Linked DNA regions of Homo sapiens. The protein of the gene in region 1 purifies or fractionates together with the protein of each later gene. This does not show direct contact. Each region holds a gene or a part of one and is shown on either strand. Other genes may lie near its edges. The genes, in order: FSBP and DCLRE1B.

What was found.
Region 2: the proteins of FSBP (region 1) and DCLRE1B purify together in Homo sapiens (affinity purification with mass spectrometry; one large-scale study listed by BioGRID and IntAct). This does not show direct contact.

Annotation. Positions count from the first base shown.
Region 1 is NC_000008.11:94,430,526-94,434,217, reverse strand, and holds part of FSBP (fibrinogen silencer-binding protein), read left to right. Parts: intron 1-1,561; coding exon 1,562-2,087; 3' UTR 2,088-3,692. UniProt on the Homo sapiens protein: Transcriptional repressor that down-regulates the expression of the fibrinogen gamma chain. Represses transcription of GSK3B gene promoter via its interaction with APBA1.
Region 2 is NC_000001.11:113,911,456-113,914,914, forward strand, and holds the end of DCLRE1B (5' exonuclease Apollo), read left to right. Parts: coding exon 1-736; 3' UTR 737-2,631; downstream 2,632-3,459.

The DNA.
Region 1 (3,692 bases):
TAATTTGAAATAGTAATTATGTGGTTTTAAAAACTTAATTTTCATATGCAATTTTAGCCTTTTCCCATTCCAGGTTTTAGCAGAGCTATTAATAGAAGCAGAGCTTGCTACTTTGAATTACATTTATAATTAATTGTTTTGTTTTTGGAAATAATAAAATGACACAAACAGAGACAAGAACAAAAATGAATTTATATAACCTACAAATAGATTTTTTATTATATACTATATATGTTTCATTTTGTCTCTTAGATAAATATCTGATATTTCTGGCAATTTAATGGCATTAGTAAGTAACGTATGGGTAGTTTTAATCTTTTTCTATGCATTCTGCTTGAACTTGTTCCAGCATTTTAATCATCCATGTAGAATGTATTCTTTTAATTATGTTTCTTATTATATGTAAAATCTTCTCTAAATAATATTAAATAAAGTATTTCCATTCATGTTCAATGATCTAATTTCCCTTTATAACTTTTATTTTTAAGTTAGGCAGAAGCATAAATTAAAAAAAACAACCTCAAGGAGCAGATATTCTTAATTCACAGCTTCACGTTATACATAAAATTATGTTTATAAAACAGAATTTTAAGGTTTATTGCATTTATAATATCATAACTTGTTATGCTGAAGCTTAAATTATGCTAAAGCTGTAGTTGTCTCCATTGGGAATGCATATTTGGTGGAAATTATGTGTAAATTTAATAAACCTTTAATATATCTGTATAGGCCATTAAAAATGTTTCATTAAAAAATCATTTAGTTTGTTTTTTTTCAGTCATTCAACACATAATGAGCACCTACTAGGTTCTAAGTACAGTACCTGCTAGGTACTGAGTATACAGTTGTGGATTAAAACCATTGCTCTTGTGAACTTTACCTGACCAGTGATTGAAAGACTTAAACAGCATCTGAGTCATATGGTTCAGAATAGGTAAAACGGAAGTTTTTCCTATCAGATAAAAGCATCTGAAATAAGAAAGTTAGGATAACCTCCAGTAGTTGAGCATATCCCAAAGCCATATACAATCTTTATGTTTTATTTTTTGGGCAAATGCAGAAATCAGTACCTCCCATAGATGGCCTTTCACTGTCCTTTTATAAGTTATGGGCCTTCATGGTTTTAAGATCAGTCCAGGAGAGCAGAAGCCTGAGGTCTAGGGCTAAGGTATGGGGATAACAAGACTGAGAATGCATTAAATGGCTCTGTACACCATTTGAAAACCTTAGGGTTGTGGGAAAGATTGGTGTCTGTTTGACAACATGAAAACTGGCTTTTCTTTTTATTTTCTTCATTGGCCTTCTATAATATTTGTAATTTCCTGCTCCTTTAAAGCACAATTTTAAAGTTAAGGATGGGGGAGATCTGTGAGTATGTATTATTGAAATCCCAATCTTAGTCACTTTAATGTATTTCAAGTGTTTAAGATTTTTTTTTATTTTGTAACTTTATAGTTTTAAAGCTTTATCATTTAATGTACATTAAATTAAAATTATGCTATAAATATACACTTTTTCTTCATTTGATTTACATATTATAATGCTTTTTTGTGTGCTATAGTGCAAACTTGGATGAGGAGGCACAGGCTGGTACCAGTTCACTACAGGTAATGTTGGATCACCATCCTGTTGCTATTACAGTGGAGGTGAAGCAAGAAGAAGACATTAAACCACCTCCTCCACTGGTTTTAAATTCTCAACAGAGTGATACTTTAGAGCAAAGAGAAGAACATGAATTAGTACATGTTATGGAAAGATCCTTGTCGCCTTCACTTTCCTCTGTTGATATGAGAATGACATCGTCTCCATCTTCTATTCCAAGGAGAGATGATTTTTTTCGGCATGAGAGTGGTGAACACTTTAGGTCACTATTAGGGTATGATCCTCAGATCCTGCAAATGTTGAAAGAGGAGCATCAGATAATTTTAGAAAATCAAAAAAATTTTGGATTGTATGTTCAGGAGAAGAGGGATGGATTGAAAAGAAGGCAGCAGCTAGAGGAAGAGCTACTAAGAGCAAAAATTGAAGTGGAGAAGCTGAAAGCAATTCGCTTACGGCATGATCTACCTGAATATAACAGTCTCTAAGTTTTTTTTTCAATCTTGCAATTTGATAATTTTGATTTTGGCCAAATTACTTTAATTTGGGAATATCCTGAAACAGAATACACGTTCTTGAAAAATGTTGTTAATCTCTATTATGGAAAAACTTTTTAGATATAATTTTCTAATTATTTTCTTTTGAGATATTAAAATTTACTGGTTGGTTGGCATGGTTATAGTTTTTATTGTCTTCTTTTTTTTTTCCCTAAGTTTAATTGTTGACCTTACAAAAGATATTTTATTCTGATCACTAAGATATACACAAATGCATATACAAACACATATTCTTTCAAAGTTCTGAGTCTTCAACATTTTTAGTTAGAACTTTGAAAGCTATAATTAGAGATTTTTAAGTCAGTCTAATTTAGGAGCTATACTAACCTAATACCAAGAAGCTTGTCTGTATGACATTGGTTTTTATGCTTTTATCTTTTGAAGGAGTAAATCCTAGGATTTTAGAGATGGAAGATATTTGGAGAACACTTTTTTTCCATCTCTGCAGTTTAGGGGTAATGAAACAGGTCCAGGGAGAACTCAATGACTTACTTAGGGTAACAAAGCTATTTATGGCAGAGCAGAGACCAGCACTTAGTTTTTCTTTGTGTAATTTCCATCCCGCTATTCGATAGAAGTAAATATCCACTAAAACATTCTCTAGATTTAAATATTAGAAGCATTTCTTTCATTAAAATTGCCTTTAAAGATTGTTAGGTTGTGAAATCAGGATAATTACATCAATTACCCCCATTCTCTCTCTATTTTTGTTCCAGCAAAATAGATAAGGTATTCCATTGAAGCTATTATATATTTTGGCTGTGTGATTTAAAGACATGTCTTAATTCATTTTGAATGTCCTGTTCTGGAAAAAATTTCTTTCACAGTAAAAATCAGAATGAACAAAATTAAAATTTTATGTATTTTATAAGTATTGTTATTTTAGTATTCATGGAAATAAAACCTCAATTCTTAAAGCATACATATTAAATTTATATTAAATCTCTAATATGTATGTTACTTAAGAATTTCTATTTTTGCTGGGGTTTTGTTGAGAAGGGATTTTTAAGCCAAGTTGTAGAATGGGGTGGGTGTAATTTCAGCAGTGAAGGGGACCATGGGTGTTTGAAGTCAAGAGTGAGACGCTGGAAAAAAGACAAAAGAATGGGAAAAAGTGGATTGAGTATATAAGCACAAATGCAGTGCTAAGCCATTGATTTTAAGTGAATGTAGAGAGAGTCAATTTGGGCTGTAGTATCCTGGACTAGGAAGGACATCTCCCTGGACTAGGTAGGGTAGCTGCTGTTTAGCTCCAGCAGAATTTTCACATGCGGGGATAAACCAGAAATCTGCATTTTTTAATGAGGAATCTTCCAATTTTAAAATGTTTGCAAATAACACAAAATGCTTTTAAAACATTATACAGACAACATGTGAGTGGGCCTCACTGAGCCATTGGGCTTCCACTTTGTGGCCTTTGGAGTAGACCAATGGTTTTCCAAGTATGGGTCCTGACCAGCAGCATCAGCATCACTTGAGAACTTGTTAGAAATGTAAATCCATTTCCAAGTGAATTAGAAACCCTGGGGGTGTCAG
Region 2 (3,459 bases), on another chromosome or scaffold:
ACTGAAGCCTTGCCAGGTGGTGCCCATTGTAAGTCGGCGGCCCTGTGGAGGCTTTCAGGACAGTCTGAGCCCCAGGATCTCCGTGCCCCTGATTCCGGACTCTGTACAGCAATACATGAGTTCTTCCTCTAGAAAACCAAGCCTTCTCTGGCTGTTAGAAAGGAGGCTAAAGAGGCCGAGAACCCAAGGTGTTGTGTTTGAATCCCCTGAGGAAAGTGCTGATCAATCTCAAGCTGACAGAGACTCAAAGAAGGCCAAGAAAGAGAAACTTTCTCCCTGGCCTGCGGACCTTGAAAAGCAGCCTTCCCACCATCCTTTGCGGATCAAGAAGCAGTTGTTCCCAGATCTCTATAGCAAAGAATGGAACAAGGCAGTGCCTTTCTGTGAGTCTCAAAAGAGGGTGACTATGTTGACGGCCCCACTGGGATTTTCAGTGCACTTAAGGTCTACAGATGAGGAGTTTATTTCTCAAAAAACCAGGGAGGAAATTGGTTTAGGGTCCCCCTTGGTACCCATGGGAGATGATGATGGAGGTCCAGAAGCCACAGGGAATCAGAGTGCCTGGATGGGCCATGGTTCTCCCCTGTCCCACAGCAGCAAGGGCACCCCTCTTCTAGCTACTGAATTCAGGGGTCTAGCACTCAAATATCTTCTGACTCCAGTGAACTTTTTCCAGGCAGGGTATTCTTCCAGGAGATTTGACCAGCAAGTGGAAAAATACCATAAACCCTGCTGAAGACAGGAGAGTACAGAATGACAACATTGAGCCCACACTGCAGTTTTGAAGATAGTAACTGATGGCTGGTGGGAAAGAGTTTGTTTTTGGGGCCTACTTTTCTATCTTTACAAGACTCTTATGGGCCCACCGTGGAGCAGCACTTCCCAAAACTTGTTCACTGGGGTCCTCGTGCCTATGGAATCCTTCTTTTTATAACTAAGTTTAAGAAATACTTTTTTTATAAAATCTTTGGAGTATGCGTGAGCAAATTAAAAGTTCTTTGAAGTCCTACAGTAACTTAATCTGTTTAACCTTGTTTAACCCAGTATTTCTCAAACTTTTGTGAACATGCAATCATCTTATGTGGGTACAGAAAGAGGTAAAGAGTCTGAATCAAAAAGGACCAGGTTATTGCTGTTGCTGTTTTGTGGTGTCATGAGCCATTCTCCATGTCCCCTTCTCCCTCTTCTCAGATCAAAATCCCTAGGGAGTTCTATTTTTAAAATTATGAACTATGGCGCTGCATGCTTCAATCCTGAACGTCACTGACTTGCTGTGACCATCCAAATAATTTTCCTGTCTCTGCCTCTGGGAGGGAACAGGAAGCGATGAAGAGGTCTTGGAACAGTAGTGAAAATTCTACCTCTATGTCCTTCATGAGGATGTGCAGTATCCCAGTATCACTGGGATCCATGTGGAACAGAGCCAGCTGGGGGGTTGGGCAGCTCTCTCCAAGGCAGTACCTAGAGCCCAGCTGAACAACAAGGCTTTGGGTGTGAAGGGACTCCCCAGCCTGGAGACCCTATTTGGCTGAAACAGTTACAAAATATCAAATGTGTTGTCAGATATTCCTCCAATTGTTCACATAGCTGGGATATTTGTTGCTCCCCTCACCCCTTGGATTATGTAGGGAGCCAGTGCACACAGCCTGTTTGTTTTAGTATCCAAGGAAGAGACCAAGGAGCCAGCTGGCGGGAAGGGGTGGGGGTGTGCAGTCTGCCCTGTCCTTCTGCTCATAACCTGACAAAATGCCAAACTAGTAAGCAGGATAGCTGATACCACGGCTATGAGGGAGTAGGCTCTGAGAGGGCACAGACTTGTGGAGCTGGGCGTCTGGATCAAAACTGCTTTGGGATGGAACCTCGAGCCCTAGCAGTGAAGAAGATTCCATTTCTTGTCCAGGGGATTTAAAAGAGTTTTCTGCTTTGAGAGAGAAATAGAGAGTTTAGAAAGCAATTGCTCTTGGGAAAGCTATACACAGCTCTGTTTTGTCAATGACCTTTGTTGTAAGTCTCCCAACGTCCTATTAGGAGCCACAGCAGGTGAGGCATTTGGTGCAGCAGGAAACATGGGGACTGCCTAGGCTCGAATCTGTGGCACCCTGAGCAATTACTTAAATTGTGGAGCCTAGTTCCTCATCTGTAAGATGGACTTGAGATTCCTACCTCTCATGATTACTATGGAGATTGAATAATTGGTAAAATTCTCCTAGCTCAGTGACTGCCACAGGATGGGTCTTTCAGATTTTGGTTCTCTTTAGCTTCTGGTTCTTGAAAGAAATTAATCTGTATATAACATAAGAAACTTTGAAAGTCAAAAAAACAAAAAATTTTAATTCCTCGTAGATTAATTGATTTGCTATCTTTTAGTTTTTTTTTCTATGCATGTAGATGTATTAAATATGTAAATGTTTTTCAAAGTTGAGGTAATATTGTATAGAATTTTATAGCCTACATTTTAATTTCTTGATATCTTAAGCATTTCACTTATTAGATATTGTTCAAAAATGCCATTTTTAATATTTGTATAATACCCTATCATGTGAGTATACCTTAACTAAGCCATTCCCATATTCAACATTTTGTGTACTGTTTTTCTAATTACATATATTACAATGAACAACCTTATGCATATATTTTGCATTTTTATTTCCTTAAAGTAAATTACTGGAGTTAGATTATAGTTTTAAGTTCTTGATACCAATTGTGCTGAATTGCCCTCCAGAAAGGTTTCCTGACCATCTTTTCTGCAGACAGGATAGCATTAAAATACCTTGAAGACTCATTAGTTTAAATGAGATCACAAGAACGGTACATGTTAACACATGGAAAATCATCTCATGTGTTAACTTAATAAATAGCTACTAAACTGTGTGGGCAAATTTAGCTGGACTTCCTCTAGCATCCTCTAGCTGTCTGACTTCTAGGCGGCCGAAGGTGGCTGGGAGAGATAAGGTAGTTCTCAGTACAGGGGTTCCCATATTGGCGTTATCTTCTAGCAACAAGGGAGCCCGTCTACTCTTGGCACATGCTGTGTCACACCTGTTCCTTCAAGTGGGTTCTATATGCATTCAGATAGGGGAGGGGAAGCAAAAGACTTTGAGGAATTTAGTTGTTGGTAGCATGTTTGCATTTGTTTGTTTGGCTTTTTTTTGGAGACAGGTTTTAGCTCTGTCACTCAGGCTGGAGTGCAGTGGCACAGCCATAACTCACTGCAGCCTCGACCTCCCAGGCTCAAGAGATTCTCCCACCTGAGCCTCTTGAGTACCTGGGACTATAGGCATGCACCACCATGCCCAACTAATTTTTTTTTTTTTTTTTTTTTGTAGAGATGAAGTTTCACTATGTTGCCCAGGCTGGTCTTGGTGTTGAACTCCTGGCCTCAAGTGATCCCCCCTACCTTGGCCTCCCAAAGTGCTGGGATTACAGGCATGAGCCCGTGTGCCCAGCCATGTTTGTGTT